2 linked regions of the Homo sapiens genome follow. The protein of the gene in region 2 interacts with the protein of the main gene of each other region in a pairwise test. Each region holds a gene or a part of one and is shown on either strand. Other genes may lie near its edges.

What was found. Proteins that work in one complex are often made in the same cells at the same time.
Region 1: the proteins of DCAF10 (region 2) and PPIL2 interact in binary tests that used the Homo sapiens proteins (3 or more experiments, as listed by UniProt).

Annotation. Positions count from the first base shown.
Region 1 is NC_000022.11:21,675,521-21,683,092, reverse strand, and holds part of PPIL2 (RING-type E3 ubiquitin-protein ligase PPIL2), read right to left. Parts: intron 1,795-7,572; coding exon 1,703-1,794; intron 657-1,702; coding exon 567-656; intron 1-566. UniProt on the Homo sapiens protein: Has a ubiquitin-protein ligase activity acting as an E3 ubiquitin protein ligase or as an ubiquitin-ubiquitin ligase promoting elongation of ubiquitin chains on substrates.
Region 2 is NC_000009.12:37,852,738-37,860,309, reverse strand, and holds part of DCAF10 (DDB1- and CUL4-associated factor 10), read right to left. Parts: intron 5,531-7,572; coding exon 5,328-5,530; intron 3,070-5,327; coding exon 2,959-3,069; intron 263-2,958; coding exon 117-262; intron 1-116. UniProt on the Homo sapiens protein: May function as a substrate receptor for CUL4-DDB1 E3 ubiquitin-protein ligase complex.

The sequences.
Region 1 (7,572 bases), on a different chromosome or scaffold from region 2:
GTGTGGAAGAGGCCAGGGCTACACTGAGGTTGGGGGAGTCAAGCAGGGCATGAGGGAGGAGGTGGTCTGCCCCAGGCAGGGCAGCAAACAGGGGCAGGGGCAGGGACGGGGACGCAGCCTCGCTAGCTGCTGGCTGAGCTGTGACCTTCCTCCAGGCACATGGCTAACGAGCATTCATTGCTGTTAGGGAGCTATCGGACCGGAACGTGGGCAGCCGTGGGCCGACCTCTGGTTAGAATGGGACAAGCCACAGAGGTGATTGACTCAGCAGGCCACGCTCCAGCCAGCACCTGCTTTTCTAAGTCAGTGTTTTTCATTAATTCACTTGGGGTTCTCTGACACCTGCAGGGACCCTGTGCCAGATACAGGGTCTTTGCAGAGCTCATGCCAGCTCCTGCCCTCGAGGCGCTGAAGCAGAGCCAGGCCTGCAGAGTGGCTATTCAGATGCCTCAGGTGGCTTTGAGGACAGATATGAGGGGCCCTGACGTGGGGGTAGGGCCCTGTAGAGGCCTGGGCTGGCTGCAGGTGCTGAAGGCAGCTGGGGCAGGCAGGCAGGGGACACTCACCTGGAGGGTGATGATGTCCTGCCGGGAGAAGGGCTCGTCGGTCAGCAGGTCCCGGAAGTTCTTGGCCTTGATATTTAGCTGTTCCACTGCCTATAGCCAGGAGGAAGTGGTTTTACGATGCCTGCCCCAAGCCTTGGCACAGGGGACTGCAAGCAGGGAGGCCTGGAGCTGGCCCCGACCATGGCACGATTTGAGAGGCATGAGGAATGAGAGAGACAGCAGTGTACACCCCACTGGCTGAAAGCAGTGGCTCCCACAGAGGCGGAGCTGGCTGGGCCTCAGACGATGAGCCAGTTCACCCTCGCAGCAACCTTCCTGCAGGAAGCTCTTGTCTGCACATTGATCAGCAAAAAGACTCAGCGAGTCACCCACCCACTCGCTGCAGGCTTTGCCAAGCTCCTCCCATGCACAGGTATGGTGCCAGGCCCCCGTGGGCAGGGGCTGTGCACACAAGATGCCTGCACTCCTGCGGTGCGGTCTAGCAGAGCCCTCACTCCACTAACGAGGACTGACCATGCCAGTTTGTGCAGGCTTCTGGCAAGAAGTGGCTCCCAAGGCCCCTGGAGCAGCGCTGGCCACCTACACCCCACAAACGTCCAGGTGCAGGATTGACAACGGCGCAAAGGTCGGCTTTCCCGCCATGTGGGGCCTGCCCCGCCTCACCCAAGAGGAGGACCCATGTGTGAACACGGCTGTCTCCCCTCTCCCTACACCCACTCCCTGCCAGAACTCCTCCAGGGGACAGCTCCCTCCTGGGGGCAAGTGACTCCATCCAGATCCGGGGCGAGCACTCCCCTCACAGCCCTAGAGGCCTGTCCTCAAAACATGGGTGCCTTCCCAGCACCTGGGCTTTGCTGAAGACGCGGAAGGACCTCTTGGGGTTTAAGGGTCCCTGCTGGGCAGCCAGGACTGCCTGGATTCCGAAGGATGCACCTCCCCCAACCCTTTTTTTGACCTGCCTGAAAATGGGGAGGCTGCACTGCCAGAGCTTTGCTAGATGACCATGCCTGTGGCTGTGACTGTAAACCCCACGAGGACAGGCCGTACACGTAGCACACAGCCCAGCCAGTGTATACTAGGAACACACAGCAGAGATCTCCCCACCGCTGTCTCCACGCCCCGGAGCGAGGACACACCTCATAGGCGTAGACGTTGCCGGTCGTCCTCACAGCCACGATGTGGGTGTTGTTGGTGAACACGGTAAACAGCACTGGGCAGTGGTACTTCCCTAGAGAGAAGGCACACACAGGGAGGCCAGTCACCTCTGTGGGCTGTGAACATCCCAGTGAGGACCGCAGAGGGCCAGGGCAGGACAGAACTCCAAAGTCAGCGATGGGAGGAGGTGGAACCCCATGTCAGCTGCCAGAGCAGGGAACCATGGGGACAGCTGCTCACCCCCTCAAGCCCTTCCACACCGTTAGGAAACTCCTATTCATCCTGCAAGACCCAATCCCGGCATCGTCTTCCTCAGATCCTCCAGCCCACCCCTGGGTGATCACCATGCTAGCCTCCTCCTCCTACTGAAGTTGGCCCTCGGCAGGAAACAACCCATGTTCCAGCCCTGACAGCTCTACCTCCTCTCACCCACATCCTCCGCCAGCCCCCTGGTCAGCTCTTCCTTCAGAACCGCCCATCCCCTTGCCTGCCTACTGTCTTTTTTTTGTTTTGCTCTGTTTTTTTTTTTTTTTTTTTTTTTTGAGATGGAGTCTCGCTCTGTCACCCAGGCTGGAGTGCAGTGGCACAATCTCGGCTCACTGCAAGCTCCGCCTCCCAGGTTCACGCCATTCTCCTGCCTCAGCCTCCCGAGTAGCTGGGACTACAGGTGCCTGCCATCATGCCCGGCTAATTTTTCTGTATTTTTAGTAGAGATGGGGTTTCACCATGTTAGCCAGGATGGTCTCGATCTCCTGACCTAATGATCTGCCCACCTCGGCCTCCCAAAGTGCTGGGATTACAGGTGTGAGCCACTGCACCCGGCCTTGTTTTACTCTGTTTTGAGATGGAGTCTTGCTCTGTCACCCAGGCTGAGGTGCAGTAGCGTGATCTCGGCTCACTGCAACCTCCATCTCCTGGGTTCCAGCGATTCTGCTGCCTCCGCCTCCGGAGTAGCTGAGACTACAGGCATGCATGCGTCACCATGTACGACTAATTTTTGTATTTTTAGTAGAGACAGTGTTTCACCACCTTGGCCAGACTGGTCCCGAACTCCTGACCTCAAGTCATCTGCCTGCCTCAGCCTCTCAAAGTGCTGGCATTACAGGCATGAGCCACTGCACCTGGCCTTGGTTACTGTCTCTCTGCCTGTAAGTCCCCACCCAGTGGCCAGGGGCCCTGTCAAAGTGCCCACTTCTGGGGATAAAAAAGTAAGTGCAGTAGGGGGACTCAGAAACATCAACCACATGTATTTGTGGGGACTTTTTCTTTTTTTTTTTTTTTGAGACAGAGTCTTGCCGTTGCCCAGGCTGCAGTGCAGTGGCATGATCTCCTCGGCTCACTGCAAGCTCCGCCTCCCGGGTTCACGCCATTCTCCTGCCTCAGCCTCCTGAGTAGCTGGGACCTACAGGCGCCCGCCACCATGCCCGGCTAATTTTTTGTATTTTTTTAGTAGAGACGGGGTTTCACCGTGTTAGCCAGGATGGTCTCGATCTCCTGATCTCGTGATCTGCCCACCTTGGCCTCCCAAAGTGCTGGGATTACAGGCGTGAGCCACCGCACCTGGCCTTGTGGGGACTTTTTCTTAAAAAAAATCCTGATTTGAGGCCAAGTTAGAGCCTCAAATTAGTTAGAGCCTCAAGTTAGAGGTGGCTCACACCTCTAGTCCCAGTGCTTTGGGAGGCCAAGGTGGGAGGATTGCTTGAGGTCAGGAGTTTGAGACCAGCCTAGGCGATAGGCTGAGACCCCGTTTTTTTGTTTTGTTTTGTTTTTTGAGACAGGGTCTAGCTCTATCACCCAGGCTGGAATGCAGTGGCGCAATCACAGCTCACGCAGTCTCAACTTCCCAAGCTCCAATAATCCTCCCACCTCAGCCTCCCAAGTAGCTGGGACTACAGGTGTGCTCAACCACACTGGCTAATTTTTAGGTTTCATTTTGTAGAGACAAGGTTTCATTATGTTGCCCAGGCTGGTCTTGAACTCCTGGGCTCAAGCAATCCTCCCACCTTGGCCTCCCAAAGTGCTGAGATTGCAGGCGTAAACCATGGTGCCCAGCTGTTTTTTTTTGGTGGGGGGATGCTGACGCGGGAGGATCACTTGAGCCCAGGACTTCAAGACCAGCCTGGGTGACATAGGGAAACCTCATCTCTACAAAAATAAAAATTAAAAAAGTAGCTGGGGCTGGGCGCGGTGGCTCACACCTGTAATCCCAGCACTTTCGGAGGCAGAGGCGGGAGGATCACCTGAGGTCGGGAGTTTGAGACCAGCCTGACCAACATGGAGAAACCCCGTCTCTACTAAAAATACAAAATTAGCCAGGTGTGGTGGCACATGCCTGTAATCCCAGCCACTCGGGAGGCTGAGCCAGGAGAATCGCTTGAACCCAAGAGGCGGAGGTTGCAGTGAGCCGAGATCACGCCATTGCACTCCAGCCTGGGGAACAAGAGCGAAACTCCATCTCAAAAAAAAAAAAAAAAAAAATTGGCTGGGCATGGTAGTACATGCCTGTGGTCCCATCTACTTGGGAGACTGAGGTGGAAGGAGCACTTGGTCCTGGAAGGTCGAAGCAACAGTGCGCTCTGATCATGCCACTACACTCCAGCCTGGGCAACAGGGCAAGACCATGTCTCAAAAACAAACAAACAAACAAAAATCCTTCTGATGTGAAAACTGTTTTTTAAATTGGGGCTTCAGCATCATGCAAGGGGGTACTGGTGGGAGCAAAGACAGAACTGCACAGATGGGAGACAGCAGGGGCTGGAGTTGATGATGGGCACAGGGGAGGCGTATCACACCTCCTCACTCCACTTTCACGCACGGGGAATTCCAATTAACAAAGAAACAGGTGGGGCGCAGTGGCTCACGCCTGTAATCCCAGCACTTTGGGAGGCTGAGGCAGGTGGATCACTTGAGCCCAGGAGTTCGAGACCAGCCTGGCCAACATGGTGAAACCCCGTCTCTACAAAAAACACAAAAACTAGCTGGGTGCAGTGGTGGTGCCTGTAGTCCCAGCTACTTGGGAGGCTGAGGTGGGAGGATCTCTTGAGCCCAGGAGGCAGAGGTTGCAGTGAGCTGAGACTGTGCCACTGCATTCCAGCCTGGGTGACAGAGACCTCATTTCAAAAGAAAAAAGGAAACACAACAAAAGAAGCTGACTGCCAGGTCAAAGTTTTAAAAGAAAAAAAAAGGCTGGACCTCATTCCTCCCTCAGTGGCTCTCATCTTGGAGCGGAAGCCCAAGTCCTCCTGTGGCTCCCAGGCCCCACAGGACTGCTCTGCACACCATCCCCACCCCTGACCTCTGTCACCACATCCCCTGCTTCCACCGCTAGCACACGCTGTTCCAGCCACATTGGACTCCCAGCTGGGCACAGACACCCTTGAGCGTGCGCCCACCTCAGGGTCTTTGCACTGGCTGTGCCATCAGCCTGGCCCTGCACTCCCCCGATGCCCACACGGCTCTCCCTCCCTGCAGCGGGTCAGGGCGGCCCTCTCCCCTCCCCCTGCTGTGCTCTACACACACAAGCAGCCTCTGGCACACCCTGCTGAGCTGCTCTCTGGTGTTCTCCCCCACCAGAATGCATGCTCCTCTCATTCAGGAGAGACACAGCCTGTTGTGCTCTCTGCACATGGCAGGCACTCAATAAATATTTGCTGTCCCTCCCTCTCCCTCTCCCGCTCCCGCTCCCCAGGGTCTCCCTCTGATGCCGAGCCAAAGCTGGACTGTACTGCTGCCATCTCGGCTCACTGCAACCTCCCTGCGTGATTCTCCTGCCTCAGCCTGCCGAGTGCCTGGGATTGCAGGCGCGCGCCGCCACGCCTGACTGGTTTTCGTATTTTTTGGGTGGAGACGGGGTTTCGCTGTGTTGGCCAGGCTGGTCTCCAGCTCCTAACCGCGAGTGACCTGCCAGCCTCGGCCTCCCGAGGTGCCGGGATTGCAGACGGAGTCTCGTTCACTCAGTGCTCAATGTTGCCCAGGCTGGAGTGCAGTGGCGTGATCTCGGCTAGCTACAACCTCCACCTCCCAGCCGCCTGCCTTGGCCTCCCAAAGTGCCGAGATTGCAGCCTCTGCCCGGCCGCCACCCTGTCTGGGATGTGAGGAGCGTCTCTGCCCAGCCACCCATCGTCTGGGATGTGAGGAGCGCCTCTGCCTGGCTGCAACCCCATCTGGGAGGTGAGGAGTGTCTCTGCCTGGCCGCCCCGTCTGAGAAGTGAGGAGCCCCTCCGCCCGGCAGCCGCCCCGTCTGAGAAGCGAGGAGCCCCTCTGCCCGGCAGCCGCCCTGTCTAGGAAGTGAGGAGCGTCTCCGCCCGGCAGCCGCCCCGTCCGGGAGGGAGGTGGGGGGCAGCCCCCGCCCGGCCAGCCGCCCCGTCCAAGAGGGAGGTGGGGGGCAGCCCCCGCCTGGCCGCCGCCCCGTCCGGGAGGTAGGGGCGCCTCTGCCCGGCCGCCCCTTCTGGGAAGTGAGGAGCCCCTCTGCCCGGCTGCCACCCCATCTGGGAGGTGTACCCAACAGCTCATTGAGAACAGGCCATGATGACGATGGTGGTTTTGTCGAATAGAAAAGGGGGAAATGTGGGGAAAAGATACAGAAATCAGATTGTTGCTGTGTCTGTGTAGAAACAAGTAGACATAGGAGACTCCATTTTGTTCTGTACTAAGAAAAATTCTGCCTTGGGATGCTGTTGATCTATGACCTTACCCCCAACCCTGTGCTCTCTGAAACATGTGCGGTGTTCACTCAGGGTTAAATGGATTAAGGGCGGTGCAAGATGTGCTTTGTTAAACAGATGCTTGAAGGCAGCATGCTAGTTAAGAGTCATCACCACTCCCTAATCTCAAGTACCCAGGGACACAAACACTGCAGAAGGCCGCAGGGTCCTCTGCCTAGGAAAACCAGAGACCTCTGTTCACTTGTTTATCTGCTGATCTTCCCTCCACTATTGTCCTATGACCCTGCCAAATCCCCCTCTGTGAGAAACACCCAAGAATGATCAATAAAAAAAAAAAGAGGTTTGGAGAAATAAAAAATAAACAATAACACACACACACACACACACACACACACACAAAATAAATAAATAAATATTTGCTGAATGAGACACACACACACACACACACACACACACACACACACTGCTGATCACAGGAGGGGAGGCAGCCCACCCTCGGCCACCAGGGTGGAGCGCCGTGTCCTCCACCGACGTCAATGACGTGCTGAGGTTCACCCATTCATTCACCTGCGAATGCTGCACCGACTGGGGACCGGGCTCTGGGCTCAGACAAGCGGGGCAAAAGGGCCTTGGCCTCAGGTGCTACAGCATCTCCCTGGAATGCATGCACCCAGTAAGCAAGGACAACCCCTAAGCCATAGCATCTCCACAGGCAAAAGACCTGGACTAGAACCTAGCACAAGATCACCACCTGGGCAGGGGTGGGCTGCACAACTCATCCGGGCCTCTGGCCACAAGAACAGCGGAAGGTGTGTAATGGGCATGAAGCAGGAGCCGCAGCACTGGGCTGGGCTCTATGAGCTGTGGCAAAGAAAAGCCTAGCCCAAGAGCTACTGGACAAATCCCTCCAGACCACCCACATCCCCTACTCAGCTGCCGCCTTGGTTCCCAGCATGAGCAACTTCTGCCTCCAACAACAAACAGACCACAGCCTCAGCCAGAGGGGGCCCATGCCCTGCAGATCCAACTGTGCCCACAAAGGCCACTAGCAGCTTACAATGGCCTGATCGCCTTTGTGGGAAGTTCCCAACACCACAGGTTCTGCCCCCAACCTCCCCCACCTTAAAACTACCCAGACCTTTGAGAAGAAATCTTGTGACACCTTTTTTTTTTGAGACAGAGTCTCG
Region 2 (7,572 bases):
AGCAGTATGCCCTTGAAGGCAGAGACTGCAGTCAGCGATCGGCCTAAGCTCTGCACACACGGCAATGGCAATTTGTCCAATGAGCCCTGTTGAAGGTGGAGTGCTGCTGCCTGTACCTCCTCATCATCACTGTTGCTTGAGCACCGAAGAAGAGTGGCCCAGCCTTTTGGGTGCAGCTGTAAGGACGTGATGCAGTTTCCGTGGTCACTCTCACCAAGAACTTCAGGGGTTACGACTTCAAGACTATTTCGTGGTGAAACTCCTGAGATATAAGAAAATGAGGATGTGGGATTTGTATTATCAAAAAACTAAGGCAGTTCATCAAAGCTTTTTATTTCTGGCAGCCACCTCCCATGCCGTCATTCCTTAGTCTGCCCCTTATGCTACCATATGTTAAAGAGCGTGGTACTCCCCAATGTATGGTGTGTGAGTTTTGGCGGGGTGAAGGTGTGGGGAAAGGGTATAAATAGAACAAAAGATCCAAGTTCCCACAGCAGTAATTGTCACTGACCTAAGGCTAAGGCATAGAAGCTGACTAGGGGTTCTTTTATTTGGATCTTACATCTCAGAAAGCTCTTTATTTAAGTAAGAACCAAAGTTATGTGACATGAAAGGACTCTAGAAAGGTAAAAGGTAACAATTCTCCTCTCATTGGTCCTGGTGCTTTCTGGTCCAGAGAAGGAAATACTTGGAAGCCATGAGGATTGCCTTTTAAGCAAATAAAAAGATCAGGACTTAAGCACCTGCAATAACAACACTATAAACAAAAAATAAAATGTTGGAGGTAAGAAAGGACACCTCACATAAAGGCATGTCAAAACAAGGGATGGGAGACATTGCCAATCATAGACTCTACTATGCCTCATCATTTCCTTCTACCTAACTCCCAATGAAAATGACTGCTGGAGTAAGGCACTGTTAATAATAGGAATATGTTATATCCTTCAGGTGCGTGAAAAACCACTTTCATAGACACTGTAAGGAAGCAACTTAGAAATTTAATAGCAAGAGAAATATTTCAACACTTCTCTGACTGTGGAAGGAGTTATTTTGAAGGTATTGAGCTCCCTCTGTCAGATCCTTTGTGAATTGCTTGTCAAGCAGATGTGTTACCTTCTTTCTAAAGATTCCCTTCAGATTACTACATCATTAACAGAAACCTGTGAAGCTCTAAATTACACTGCTATAACAAAACTATACTGAAATAACTATTTCACATATGATTGAACTTTAACAATTTTAGAGAAAAATATACTCTTATTTTAAGAATTAATTTGGAAAACCTATAACAAAACCAGACAAGAAATGCATTCTAAGTAGGTGGTTTGCTAACTGTGCTCCTTTGGGGTTCCTCAGGAGATGGCAAAAGTGGGGAACCACGTGTGGGCTGAGGTGTAGATGGAGTGGGGAAGGCTGGAGGGTCAAGAGCCTCCCTAATTTTTCTTGAACCAGAGCTACTTTGATTTTATTTGTGCTACATCTCTAAGAATCCACAGCAGATTTCATGTCAAAAATAGAGTTCTAATGCTGAAATGCATTTGAAAGCCTCTGCTCTATACAGCTATTATATCTGCCAAAGGATAGTGTTAACATACTCTGACATCTGAAGATCCAGGATTTCCAACATTTAGAGCAACTTCACCTATAAGCCCCACCTTCTCCCATGTTTTCCCTCTCTTTTCACCCTCTCATTTTCCTCTTCTTCCCAGCCTCCTCATATATCATCTCTTCCCTCATTCTTAACTCTCTGTGGCATAGAACTGCTGTATATTTGTGTTTGTGTGTTTACCACTGGTCAATAACAAGCAAGCATGTTAACTATTCTTCTTAAATTAAGTTTCTTTTTCTTGTGGATGGTGTAGTCAATCAATAAAGATTTTTCTCAATGATTATTAGAAGCCTTGACTTGTTTCCCATAGCACAAGTGGAAGGAGAACAGGAAGAATCTGCAAAAGATGTTTGTGTTACAAATCAAAGGAAAAATGTTATACTTCTGGGCATAAATCTTTAAATTTAAGAGGAGGAGCCTTTAACCTTAAAGTGAAATATCACAGACTTCAATATCCAGAGGCAAGTGGATAGGCCATATAGGTTAGAAAGAGCTCTTAAACCATTCTACTGACATAAGTAGCCATGCAAGATAACCAGCATCTACTAGGCAAAGCCACCCAGTGAAAACACAAATTAGAAGTCTAAGATTTAGTCTCTGCCCAAAATAACAAGGTAGAGAAATGTCTATCTCCAAAAGTGACCCAAAATGACAAAAAAAAAAGCAAGCCATCTCTGGCTCTTAATACTCAGTTCACAAAGAGAAGAATAAACAATGAATGGTATAAGAGCTTAGACGTCAGTTAGTATGAAGAGGAACAGTATGTGGAATTTGTATAGGCAGAAACCATTTCAACTGGGGGGGTGTGGTGGAAGGTATAGGGCAGAGCAACTAGTTCTGCCAGAATGGCTAGGAAAAAACTGGGAAATACAGAGAGGAGCCAGATGGTAGCTCACTTTATCCTACAAACCCTTGGAAGCTGTCAGGCATTGCACAGACAAGGAAATGGCAGAGCAAAAAGTCTGAGGGTAACCAGGTGACTTTCACAATTACCTGAAAATTCATGACTTATATTTATACAGAGCTTTCACGTGCATAATCTCACTTAATTTTCACAACAATCTTGATTGAAATCTATATTTCTGAACTACTTCCTCTCCAAACTAGACCAAACTAAGTCCAGCTAATAAAACCAAAGCTCAAGTTCTATTAAGATTTAACTCAAGATATTCAACCCCAGGGACTCTCGGTTAGCTTTTTGAAGATGATGACTGAGGGATAAATCACCTCATCTCCATTGCTTTTATTTTTATGGATTAAAACCATAAAACTGGTTTTAATCAATCAATAATTAATCAGATTGGCATAATCTGTTGTTACAAGATTATAAAATCCAACTTTTAACCTACCTTCTCTTTGAGAGGCTCGTGACATGTGTTTCTCAGAAGAATTAGAATCACTATGATGACAAGGTGAGCCAGAAACTCTAGGACCAGATGAACTTGATGAAGTGGTCAAATCTTAAAAATATAAAAAATTCTGACAATAAACCTAGCATAACTCTGGTAGTGGCTCTTAACTTTTTAATTATCTACTCGAACCATAGTTTTAAAATTTTGAAAAAATGCTCATATATCACTGGCCTATAAGACTGAGGAAGGCAAGACAGCTCTTTGAAGTGTTCTAAGATCTAGTCCCTTTCTGAATCTTTTATATCAAAGACTTGACTATGTGAAATAAAAATGAAAAACCAAATAATCATAGGAGCGTCTTTGGATCCTCATGATTTCTGTACTAAAATGGAACCCAAAAATTCCATGAAAATGAAAACTAAGCTCTTAAGCCTATTGTTTTATGTTAAAATAGGGTCCAAACAACAGGCCCATTACCAGAAACATGAAGAGATTCTTCTTTAAAGTATACCAAAAACTTCCATTATCATTCTTGAAATTACGTGAATAGTCTTTTTTTTTGAGACAAGGATCTTGCTATGTTGCCCAGGCTGGACTCCTAATTCCTGGGTTCAAGTGATCCTCCTGCCTCAGCCTCAGCCTCCTGAGTAGCTGGGCCTAAAGGCATGCACCACTGTGCCAAGTTTATGTGAATACTGTGAAATGTGACATAAAGTTTACATTGAAAAAAATAAAATGAGTATCAGGTAGTGGAGTCTGATATATTACTCCAAATAGCAGTGTCTATTTCATCATCACATTTTGCTAGTGGTCCCATACCTATGTTAAGAATTCTTACTAGTCTAATTTCCTGTAATGTTATTTAGTATCAGAATTACCATTAGAAAACTGAAAACCTTGTTGGTTTTTGAGTTGAAATAGGCCAACTAGACATTCAAAATCACTATTTCTCACTAAGTTAGAGTTGCTTATCATGTTTAACTTAAAAGGCAAATTTGAATCTCAAAGGATTATACTCGTATATTTATGAAATCCCTTGTTTGCAAGTAAGTTGGTAAAACTTAAATTTCTACTTTTGACAGTTATGCCAGGCACTGCAGTACAATGATGTCTGTACTTTCCCAAAGGAATTTTCAGAAGTGGTCCTGTGCACAAGGAGAAAGATTCCAACCTTTTTTTTCATTTCCTTTTTTTTGGACACAGGGTCTTTCTCTGTTGCCCAGGGTGGAGGGCAGTGGGGCACAATCATGGCTCACTGCTGCCTCAACCTGCCAGGCTCAGGTGATCCTCCTGCCCCAGCTTCCTGAGTAGATGGGACTACAGATGCATGCTAGCATATCTGGCTAATTTTTGTGTTTTTCGTAGAGACAGGGTTTCACCATGTTGCCCAGGCTGGTCACAAACTCCTGGGCTCAAGCGATCTGCTCACCTCAGTCTCTCAAAGTGCTAGGATTACAAACGTGAGCCACTGCACCTGGCTAAATTTTTAAGTTATTTGTAGAGATGAGGTCTTCCTATGTTGCCCAGGCTACCCTTGAGTTCAACTCCTGGGCTCAAGCGATCCTCCCACCTTGGCCTCCCAAAGTGATGGGATTACAGGTGTGAGCCCCCGCACCTGGCCCCAACCATTCAAAGCTGCCTTTTAATAGCAATTTATTAGCATTCTATGTTCCAAATGCTTAAGTCTTTTTTCCCCTGGATTTTTGTTTATAATGTAAATGATGGGTATGTCCCCACACCAGTCCCCTCTTTCCCAAAGGTAGATGAAATATAGTCTTTTTTAAATCACATAATGTTGATAAAATACAATACGTACATTTTTCTGAACCCTAAATTCTCTTAAGTCTAACAAAATCAGCAATGGGAGAAGAGACAGAGTTTTAGCAAAAGAGCGTTTAGAGAGTAATGAGATAAGATGGCACCAGCTACCTGTGTCTGGACATCTGTAAGTCTAGGATACAGATAAAACTAAAACTCTATATTGACCATAATTTAATAAAAGCTCTGCTTGATTCCAGAAGGACTTAAGACCTTGTGCCATCACTAATTTTTGAGATAGTGATGATTCAAAATTACTGATGAAAAGATCCTGTGGCTAGCATAAAGCTAAAAGAAAATACTTTAGGGTCAGCAGTTATTCCTCCTAGTCCATTTGTGATTCAGAGGTACATATGAATGATATGTCAGAGATACATACAAATCATTATACTTGCTTAGATAAAAACCCATCAATGAGCTTTCTAAAGAATGCCTTTTAAAAAACTGTCTTCCCTTTTCCTGCTATCATTTTCAGAAAAGAAACCTATACCATCTCTATGTTTGAGATTCTCGAGAAAAATCTTTTTGACCAAAAAAGAAAAGCTTACCTGAACTTGAAGTAGTTCTTCTTGCTCTTAAAATGGGATAGCTGCCTACTTCTAAAGACTTAGTTAAGTCAAGGTCATGCAAAATTAAGAGATATCCAGAGGACGTTGAAATCAACATTTTGGAACAATCTGGTGTTAACCTCATTCGCATGAGAAAACGTGTGTGAAAGAATTTCTTATGTGGACACCCATCTTCTGTATACCTACAGGAGAAACCAAGCCAACAAAATCTAGAGTTATCATAAATATAACGGTTCAGTAATAATCATATTTTTTGCCCTTCAAAATAAAATGTAGGGAGGATGAGAAGAGCTTGGTCAATGGGCTCAAAATTACAATTAGGAGGAATAAGTTCTAGGGTATTAATATTGCACAGTAGGGTGATGACGGTTAATAGTAAGATACAGTATATTATAAAATAGCTAGAAGAGCGACTGTTACATGTCCTTACCACAAAGGAATGATAAGTGCATGCTAATACTGATTTGCTCATTATACAACATATATGTGTCAAGACATCAAATTGTACCCTGTAAATATGTGCAGTTACAATGTGTCAATTAAAAAATATTTGAGGCCAGGCATGGTGGCTCATGCCTGTAACCCCAGCACTTTGAGAGACCAAGGCAGGAGGATTGCTTGAGCCTAGGAGTTCAAGACCATCCTGGGCAAGATGGTGACCCCATCTCTACAAAAATTTAAAAAATTAAAATAAATTAGCTGAGTGTGGTGGTGTGCACTCATAGTTCCAACTACTCAGGAGGCTGAGGTGGGAGGATCACGCGAGCCTGGGAGTTTGAGGCTGCAGTGAGCTATGATCACACGACTGCACTCCAGCCTGGGTGACAGACAGACAGACCCTGTCTCTATTCAAAAAAAAAAAAATTGAAACTTCAAAAATGAGATGTCTTTCCAATAAATTTTACTTTTTATGTTAATAATTATTATTTAAAATAATACATGTTGTTTTAATCAATTGTGGACTAATAATATTGTAATGATCATTAAATCCAGAAGAAATGTAACACTAATAGCCCTGTGGTCACAGAAAACAATTTTTAAAATTAATGTCAGTTTACGTGCATATTTTTGATGCCAATAAGAATGATCAGTAGGCTAGGGGTGGTGGCTCACACCTGTAATCCCAACACTTTGGGAGGCTGAGGCGTGAGGACAGATGGAGCCCAGGATTTCAAGACCAACCAGGGCAACATAGCAAGACCCTGTCTCTACAAAAAATAAAAAGTTAGCTGGAGACTGAGGTGCGAGGATGGTTTGAGCCTGGGATGTGGACGGTGCAGTGAGCCATGATTGCGCCACTGCACACCAGCCTGAGCATATAACAGGATATAATTCTATGAGAAAATATAATGAAAATGAGTACCAGAAGAAAAAGTTGTAAAACTTCCAGCTGTTAAAAAAAATAGAATTTACAGTCAATGTATATTGAGATTTACATACATGCTTAACAATCTTTTTGCTCATCATTCCTTCGTTCATCTCCAAAATTCCTTTTTTGATCCTTTCTTTCTGAAGTATATCCCTCAGAATTTTTTTTTTTTTTTTTTTGAGATGGAGTTTTGCTCTTGTCGCCCAGGCTGGAGTGCAATGGTACTGTCTCAGCTCGCTGCAACCTCTGCCTCTCGGGTTCAAGCGATTCTCCTGCCTCAGCCTCCCAAGTAGCTGGGATTACAGGCACGCACCACCACACCCATGCCTGGGATTACAGGCATGAACCACCATGCCCGGCCAGAATTTTTTAAAGTTAGACTTTGTTGAGGTAAATGCTCTCGCTTTTTATTGTTCTGAAAATCTTTTTTTTTTTTTTTTGAGACGGAGTTTCACTCTTGTTGCCCAGGCTAGAGTGCAATGGCGCGATCTTGGCTTACTGTGAACTCCGCCTCCTGGGTTTAAGCGATTCTCCTGCCTCAGCCTTTAAAAAAAATAAAATTTTTTAATGGTGTACATGATGTTTCAAATATGTATATATTGTGGAATAGCTAAATCAAGCTAATTTATATATATATATATATATATATATATATATATATAACCTCACATACTTAACATTTATGATGATAACACTTAAAATCTACTTTTAACAAATTTCAATTATATATAATAACAACAGTAAATTGTCATTAACAGTGGTCATCATGTTGTACAATATACATCTCCCAAGTAGCTGGGATTACAGGCACCTGCCACCACATCCAGCTAATTTTTCACATTTTTAGTAGAGACG